Linked DNA regions of Homo sapiens: region 1 is linked to region 2. Evidence: fine-mapped expression QTL. A gene starts in region 2. The other region holds a variant in brackets. All regions are shown on one strand. Distances are from middle to middle.

Region 1 (4,390 bases), 46 kb after region 2:
TGTATAAGAATGAAGGGAAACAAGAAAAATATGTGTGTTTATGTCTGTGTGTGTGTCACATGTACATCCCAAAAGGAAATACAGGATGGAGAAGGCAGAATCTAATGCAAATGATTATCTTTCTAGAGAGGGGGGTGGAATGAGGTGAGAGAGAGAAGGAAAGTTTCTGAGCACACCTTTAAATATAAGTTACTTACAACCCCATTCAAGAAATAAAATAGAAAGACAAACCTTAAAATTGAAACAAATAGAAAATACATACCTATATGAGTAACCTTTGAAAACAGTAGTTTGTGGAATTTGACTGTCCTTATTCTAAGGACAAAAAGACTGCCAAAAACAAAACAAAAAAAATCCTGAATTTCAACATCACTGAGTAGAATGTTGTTGGTGGCACTAGGGCCCTAATCCTGAACTGCTTGTGAGTGCAGTGGGTAGGGCGGTGTCGCCGGGACCACAGTCGTCAGTGAGAAAGAGCAGCACTGGCACAGAGCAGGAGAAGGGAGAGTCCCATGGGATTTGGGTTGGAGGTGTAAGCAGGAACTTAACTTTATCTTCAGCTGAAGCCATCTGAAGACTTGCAGGTTTTCTGCCTTCATAGGAAAACTACAGCCATTCAGAGGCAGCCCTCCTGCCCCAGTCCATGCAAGGTCACAAGCTGCTGCTCAACGTCACATCATAGCCTAGCTCCTGACATTTTCAAAGTCACAAATGGGTGCAAGACGATTTGGGCCCAAGTATTATGGAAACTAAGTTTCTCTTCATAGCCCTGGCCACAGGTTTAGGGATTTCATCTAAAAGGTAGACAGACAGATACTAAGATCCTCAGCTGTTTAGGGGAAAGGGTTAGGTTTCCTCTTTAAAATCACCATGCTACAGATCAGTATTTTGCAATTTACAACACTGCATTTGCCAATCATCATCAAGAAGCTGAAGATGGCCCCAAGAAGACAACACTGGTATCTGCCCATCCTCTGCAGGAGGCTTTCCGGTGTCCCCTGCCCACGCCCTGCAAGAACTCACTGGTGCCCAGCTCCAAAGGGGCCTCCTCTGGCTCCCTCGAGACCATCTGACCAGGTGCAATGGAACAGCGCCCTCAAGGATGAGGGTGGCAACTGCCTTGGCCAGGCAGGCACACTGCGTCTTCCCCGTTTGCCCTCCCATCAGTAGTTGGCCCTGGGATGGAAGGCAAAACAACCGATCCCACCCAGGTCTTGGTCTGCAAGTCCCCCAAGAAAACCAGTATTAGTCAGTTTAGCCCCAGAGAGGATATGCCTTCCAAAGTGGCCCTCCCTGTGCCATGTGGGCAGGCCTAGCCACAGGAGCCCCAACAGACTCCAACCTTGCTCAACTAAGGGGCTTCTGGCTAGAAAGCGGTTCTGGAGCCTGCTGGCCAAGCCGTGCTCTCTTTGGTTCCACACAAACAGGAGGTTCAAGCTAAGAGTTCCCCACAGCCACCCCTGCTTATGGTTCCAGGCACTCCAGGCCCCGCACTGTGCGATCTCTCGCACCACCCAGGGCCTTGCACTGGGCCCAGCCCCAGGAGCCTGAGAAGAGGAGTGTTCTGGTTAACATCAGTACTCTGGTGACAGGTCACACTTGAGCATGATGTTCTGATGTTGCCAAGGCCTCCAGAGCTCTCTGCAGAAGGAACCTATGAGTGACTGAAAGCTGAGAGTCCCAGACTTGGAGCAAGCACTGTGGAATGGAAGCATACTTCAATGACTAAACACACTGGGGACACAGTGGTCACGAAGGGATCAAACCCTGGAGTACAGACACCGGGGCCCTCCAAGGAGAGGCGGAGACCCCTGCTGGGGGCACT[C/T]ACTGGTAGCCCTCCTTTGCCTGTGACCTCCCAGGGTGGTCCCTGCACATATGCAGGGTGATGTCGCCACATCCTGGGCTCTGCTTGGCCACACCTACCTGGGCTGCACCCAGTGTCCCACGGGTGACCTGACCAGAGGAGGGCTCAGTGCCACAGGGCCTTGAGCCCAAGGAGGGCCCCAGCTTGCTTGGCAGGCATGAATGTGTCCCAGGGGTGGTCCTATCAATGCCCCTGCCTCAATGACTAAACTGTGAGAAGACTGGGGATGTGAAGAGGAAAAGCAGGGATGGCAACGGACGGTACTTGCAAGCCCTAAAGGTGCGACTGGCGCCGCAGTGGACACAGGACCCCTAGCAGCCCAGCCACCTGGCCAACTCTTAACAGCTCATGCTGCAGAGCCTTCAGCCCTCAATGGGACCACACAACCAGACTCCAAGTGAGCACCTTCTGAGCGGCACCCCCAGGCCTGGCTCACCAGGGGATGCTCCCTGGCTCTGGCCCCAGGAAGACTTCCTTGTGGTTGCTGCATGCCCCTCACGCCCTCCAGTCTGGTCCACAGGAGGCACCATCTACTCTTGGAACTCATAACTCTTTTAAAAATTCAAAATCATTACAGGTCATGAACCTCTGAAGTCACTTCTGAATAGTCAAACTTTCCAATTCCATAAACTCTTGAAAGACAATATGAAGAACTACTGAAGATTAAGGAGTAAAGTATCTAACTCAAAGCTGATTCCCTAAATAAAGATGTTCACTACACCTGTAAAAAAGAGAGGTGTTCTTGGCAAAAGGAACATAATGAAGAAAATCTTTGGGACAAGAAAGATCATGGGGTGCCACAAGAAGATACCACTCCGCACCCAGCAGGATGGCCATAATAAAAAGAATGGAAAAAAACAAGCATTGACAAGAAAGTGAAGAAATTGCAACCCTCATACATTGCTGGTGAAAATGTAAAATGATGCAGCTAGCTGCTTTGGCATTTCTTTAACAAGTTAAACACAGAATTACCATATGACTCAGCAATTCCACTCTTAGGTATATGCCAAAAAGAATACAAAACCTGCGCAAGAATGTTCACAGCAGCAGCACAACAGCCAAAAAGAGGAAACAACTGAAGTGGTCCATCAACTGATGAATGGATAAACAAAATACTCCATACAATGGAATATCATTAGCCATAAAAAAGAACGACACACTGACACATGTTCCAACACAGATGAACCCTGAAAACATGATGCAAGGGAAAGACACACAAAAGCCACATACTGAAATCACCAGAGTCAGCAAATCCATACAGACAGAGAGCACATTAGCGGTTGACAAGCGCTCGGGAGGGAGGACCAGGGAGTGACTGCTTAATGCTTATGACATTTCCATTTGGGGTGACAAAAAATTCTGGATAATGGTGATGGTTGTGCAATATTGTGAATGTACTTAATTGTGTACTTTAAAATGGTTAAATGGTATATTTTAAGTTATGAGTACTTCGGTGGGGCAATGGTGCATTCAGCATAAGTGAAATAAACCTTCAGACTGGTGATGCCAAGTTAACAGGTAAACATGGACCAGATGATGTGCTAAAGCATTTGGAACTTTCCCTGGAGGAAACAGAGAGTCAATGAAGTTTTAGTAACAGAGGCAGATGCTCAACTCTTCTTCAATAAAATACCAGAACTATCATTTACTAAGTAAATGCATTTACTGTGAATTCATGGTCTTTTTAATTCTCACAACTTATGTGAAGCCTGTTTAGAGATGGAGAGTCACAGAAGTTAGATAACTTGTCATGGTCCCAGAATTAGTAAAAATGCCAGGATTTGGGCTGAAGTCTTATTGTCTTTAAAGTCTATGGTCTCTTTGCTGTGTCTCACTTGGAAAGGGCAAAGTAAAGGAAACCATCAACCAGTACCTGCAGCAGGGCGTCCTGGCTGGGGAGCATGTGGCAACAGATAAAGAAGGGATGGATCTGAGAGACTTCGGAGATACATCCAATTAGGTAAAGGACTATTTGCTGAGACTAAAGGAGGAGTCAATGATTTCCCCCAACTTCCTAGCTTTGATGAATGTGCAAATGATGGTTTTATTCCCAAAGAGATACAGTGACATTGGCACTTATGTTCCTATACAACAAATCAAACATGTGTTACCATGTATAACCGGTTGCCATTCTGTATCGAAGAGGCACCTATTTTCTTAAAATATTCAAGAATCTGTTAATACATAAAACTTAGGTAACATGCCAGTTCAACCAGAAATATTTTTATCCATCAGAATTAGGAGGAAGCGGACTTTTTGCTGTCTCACCCCAGTGGCTACACTGCCCTTTGCGGAGATGTAGGCATGCACATCTCCATAGAAGTCCATCCTGGGCCCAGCCCCTGTCTACTCTCTCTACTTGTTCCCTGGGTCACCCCTTCCCTTCTCAGTCTTTCCCATCATGTGACTACGAAGGAGTCTCAGGTTTGTATCTTTAACCCAAATCTGTCTGTTTAAACTTCAGTTTACACACATAGAGTAGAAGCTCGCTTATCAGTCTCACTTTAACTGACTTGAATTGGAAAA
Region 2 (4,390 bases):
CCATGATTCAATCACCTCCACCTGGTCCTGCCCTTGACCTGTGGGGATTATTACAATTCAAGGTGAGATTTGGTTGGGGACACAGAGCCAAACCATCCCCCAAAACTCACGTTGAAACCTAACCCCCTGTGCAATAGTACTAGGAGGTGGGGCCTCTGGGAGGCACTCTGCCTTCATGGATGGATGACTGCCCTCCCAAAAGAGGCTCCAGGGAGCACCCACATTCCTCCCTTCCACCATCCAAGGACACGTCTATGAATCATGGGCCGTCACCAGACACTGAGTCTACTGGAGCCTTGATCTTGGACTTCCCATCCTCCAGAACTGTGAGCACTACGTTTCTGTTTATCGTAAATTACCCACTCTAAGGTGTTTTGTTACAGCAGCCCCAACAGACTAAAATGGTCCATGAGGGAAGAGGTTGTAGCTCAGATACCCATGTCAGGCATATAGGATGTGCTTAATTAACACTTATTGATCGAATGTGTATGTCCCTGTCTGCCTTTCCATTTTTAGGCAGCTATTGATGGTTTTTAAACTATCCAGCAGAAGTATTTTTAATGTAAATTTCCATGTGGGAATACATTTTCACACAAAAAAAGGCACCTTTTCTTAAGTGAAGGCCACGTAGATTGCCAGGCTGGTGCAATTCACCCAAGAGCTATCCTATACAATCAACTTCTGGCTTTCAAATTATTTTAACTCACTCACTAAAGATAAACTTTATTTTCTTTTCCCAGCTTTTTAAAGCAAACTTCACAACTTCAGTGTATTTGCGGGCATGCCCTCTTAATCAAGGGTGTCAGCTTCTTAGTTTTCTTCTGTTCCCACTTTAACAAAATTGTATTTAGAATCCTTTCATTGAGTTTTGCCACCTTTGAGTGTCATTCAATCGAACAATATCTATATGCTGACAATGCTGTCATTTCATCTGTTACCACCTGAATCTCCACTGTGAGTCCCAGCTTCTCGGATGCCCACTCCTGTCTCCACCTGGACATCCCACAGACACCTCAAATTTGCCAAACCTCGCTTCCCTCTGCCCTCCTGGAGCTTGGCCGTCTCAGCACACGCACTGCCATCCTCCCAATCGCTCAGCCCAAACCTTGGAGCCGTGCTGCCCGACACAATTCATCATGAATCCCATCAGCTTTCCCTTCCTGAAGCATCCAGACTGCAAACGTGCTTCCTGCTGCATGGCTGCACCCTCACCCCCTCCTGGACTAGCCGGCAGCCTCCCTTTTGACTTCTCTGGAATGTTCTGTTCTCCACACAGCAGCCCAGTGATCCCTTCAGAGCACAAATCTTTCCATGTCAATTCCTGTTCCCTCCAATATCTTCCCAACACAGTGAAAATGAAACACCAGGTTCTTACCTCAGGCTTCAAGGGCTGATATGGTTTGGCTGTGTCCCCACCGAAATCTTATCTTGAATTGTAATCCCCATAGTCCCCACGTGTCCTGGGAGGGACCCGGTGGGAGGTAATTGAATCATGGGGGTGGTTTCCACCATGCTATTCTTGGGATAGTGAGTGAGTCTCAAGAGATTTGATGGTTTTATAAGGATCTGGCATTTCCCCTGCTTCAGTCATTCTCTCTGCTGCCACCCTGTGAAGAGGTGCCTTCTGCCATAATTATAAGTTTCCTGAGGCCTCCCCAGCCATGTGGAACTGGGAGTCAACTAAACCTCTTTTCTTAAATTACCCAGTCTTGGCTATTTCTTCATAACAGTGTAAGAAGGGACTAATACACAGGGCCTACATCTGAAAGCAGCAAACGACAACCCTGGGGCCAAATCTGGCCCCTTAATAGCTCTTATAAATAAAGCTTTATTGGCACACAGCCAAGTGTTCATTCATGATTGTCTATGCTGCCTCTGCTACAATGGTGCTGAGCTGTAGTGACAGACACTATTTGGCCCTTCCCCGCTTTCTCCCTCCTCCCTCCCTCCCTTCCTTTTCTCCCCTTCCTTCTTTCCATCCTCCTGCTTTCCCTCCCTCACTCCCTCCTGTCTCTTTCCCTCGTTCTTTTCTGTGTATTCCACACACACCTAGAACGTAAGCTGCATGTGACTTTGTCTGTCCCGCCCAGTGCTGTGTCCCCAGGGCCTATCTCACCTCCATTGACCACACACGGGCATGGGTGCCACCTTCCACCTTGCACCTGCTGCCTTTACCTTCTGTTCTCTGTCTCCCTAAATATCTCCCAGGGTCCTCTGAGCCTTCACCGTTCATTTCTCTGCCTGGCCTCAAACAGAAAACGTCAGGAGGGAAGCACACAGCTGCACAGGTCGTGCCCCGAGGCTCCTGCTGCCGGCACCTCCCCCAGCCTGGACTTTGGCTGTGTTTGTAGCCCTGTCCCAGCGCTCCGGGTGGGAATGGCAGGCTGCGTCCCACTGCTCCAGGGCCTGGTCCTGGTCCTCGCCCTCCATCGTGTGGAGCCCTCAGGTAGGCATCTGGCTTACCTGTCTGTTGTGCCTGTGCTGTGTCTTTCTTGACTCGGTCCATGGTGGATTTGTAGATGAGGCTTTTTCCAGGAGCCAGAGGAGCCCTGAGTGCCCAGACTAGTCTTAATTCCCCTGAAAAAGCTGTTTGGATCTTTATCATTTGGTGACAAGTATTTGGGACATGATAGTGTCACTTGGGGTCCTCCCAAGAGATGCCCAAATGGAAAGAAGCCTGTGTGCAGGGGATTCAGCCGGGAAAGGCCGGGGAGAGGGGAGGGGGAAAGGGGGAGGAGTGGGGGGAGGCCTGGGTTGGGCATTGGACGAGGGGAGGGGGTGGGGCAGGCTGAGCCCAGACTGCAATGTGGGCAGAGAGAGCCTTGGCCAGGCCAGCCAGGAATGCCCAGTCTTGAGTCAGGAGACATAGCCAGGGAGCAGCCACCCTGCCTGCCTGCCACCCTTCTACCACCAGCCACTTCACTGAAGGAACGACATGGACTCCATTCTGACTCTGCCTGCACAGGCGTCCAGGAAAGCTGCAAGTCAAAACACCCAGCATCCCCGCTGGCCCCATGGTCTCCCGCTGGCCCCATGGTCTCCCACCCTGAGAGGGTGATCCCCCCGCCCTGCCCTGCCCAGCACTTACCGTAGCCGGACTTAGCTGAGCCCCCCCTGCTGTAACCCTCAGCACCGAGAGAAAAGGAGGGAGGATGGGAAGGGCCTGGGCTTTGACCCTCCCGGAGAGGGAGAGAACATGCTTTGGGACCCTCAGGTGGGAAGAGGCTCCAGAGACCACTGCCGCGGGTCAACTCATTTGCCTTCTCCTCCTGGAAATCGCAGAGCCTGCTGCAATGTATAAGTTTCTTCTTTATGTGTTTTATCAAGATGTTAAATGCTGCGCACAGAGGCAGCACAGGAGCTGATGGCTCTTGGTCCCCAGTTCTCAGTACGGGGACCTTTGACCCCAGCTCAGCCTTCCTTCGCACTCAGACCCAAAACCCAGTTGGAGCCCTCCCTCCTCCACTTTCCTGACTGAGGCCCGTGGCCTCTCTGCAGAACCTTAGTGTATCCGCACTGATCCTGGGGCTGATCCATTCGCCCAGAGGATGAAGTGCTTGCCTACCTCGGGGGAGGGAGTAGCGGGGTGGCCCTGAGGCCCTCGCAGGCTGAGAGCCTGTGGAGACGGACGGGGCTGGGGCTGGCGGCCGGCCGGGGAGGAAGCCAGGCAGCTCTGGAAAGCAGGGCCCTCGGTGCTCCCAGTCACCTGCCTTCTTGTCTCGTCTGTAGTATTTCTCCCGGCCTCCAAAGCAAACGACGTTCTGGTGAGGTGGAAGCGTGCGGGCTCCTATCTTCTGGAAGAACTCTTCGAGGGAAACTTGGAAAAAGAATGTTATGAAGAAATCTGTGTCTATGAAGAAGCAAGAGAAGTGTTTGAAAATGAAGTAGTCACTGTATGTACCCCCACCACAAACCACAGGCCTCCTCATTATTTAGACTTCTGCTGGCCCAGGGAGCATCATTTCTCAGAGATTAAGCTTAATTAATTAGCCTATTTACTTACCGATGAGGTTGACACAATCCCAGTTTTACAGATGAGGAAACAATTTAGAGAATCGACTTAATCCACCTTTCCCTACAGCAGTGAGTGGGGCTGGAAGTCAGCTCAGAGCCCACTGGACTCATTTCTTCAGGTCAGGCAAGGCCCACACACTGATCAGACACCCAGCATACATTTTCTTTCTAGGCTTCAAGTCTGAATAATTCTCCTAATTTTAGATACTCCTACCCCAAACTAAGTGTCCCCACTCCCTACAGAGGTATATATCTTTAAAATTCAACTCGGTTTATAAAAAGCGAAAAGGTGATGTGACTTCTATATCATGTGCTTTTGTGGAGGGTGGCGTGGAGATTGGCCCTAGAAGGGAAGGGCCACGTTAGGGGCTGTGGG

Which allele goes with the higher level. Positions count from the first base shown, and alleles are read on the strand shown. Sizes are in standard deviations (SD) of each study's normalised expression.
In carriers of allele T in region 1, the expression in liver of the gene that starts at base 2,364 in region 2 tends to be higher than with C alone (moderate effect, 0.46 SD a copy in GTEx).

What was found. PIP is the estimated chance that this variant, and not a neighbour inherited with it, causes the effect. A credible set is the group of variants that fine-mapping cannot tell apart.
Region 1: its variant is the best candidate, but not a certain one, in a credible set for the expression of PROZ in liver (GTEx, PIP 0.80).

What each region holds. Positions count from the first base shown.
Region 1 is chr13:113,202,650-113,207,039 of GRCh38, forward strand. The region is part of intron 1 of PCID2 (PCI domain containing 2); the gene reads right to left. Among named protein-coding and RNA genes, the nearest start is that of PCID2, 3.8 kb to the right of the region's middle. The variant C/T (reference allele first, on the strand shown) is at 1,826.
Region 2 is chr13:113,156,285-113,160,674 of GRCh38, forward strand. PROZ (protein Z, vitamin K dependent plasma glycoprotein) reads left to right here and starts at 2,364. Exons shown (of 8, transcript NM_003891.3): 1 at 2,364-2,446; 2 at 3,730-3,893. The coding sequence starts at 2,377. LOC124903216 (a long non-coding RNA gene) reads left to right here. Exons shown (of 4, transcript XR_007063880.1): 4 at 246-326. RefSeq lists enhancers at 1,847-2,424, 3,001-3,578.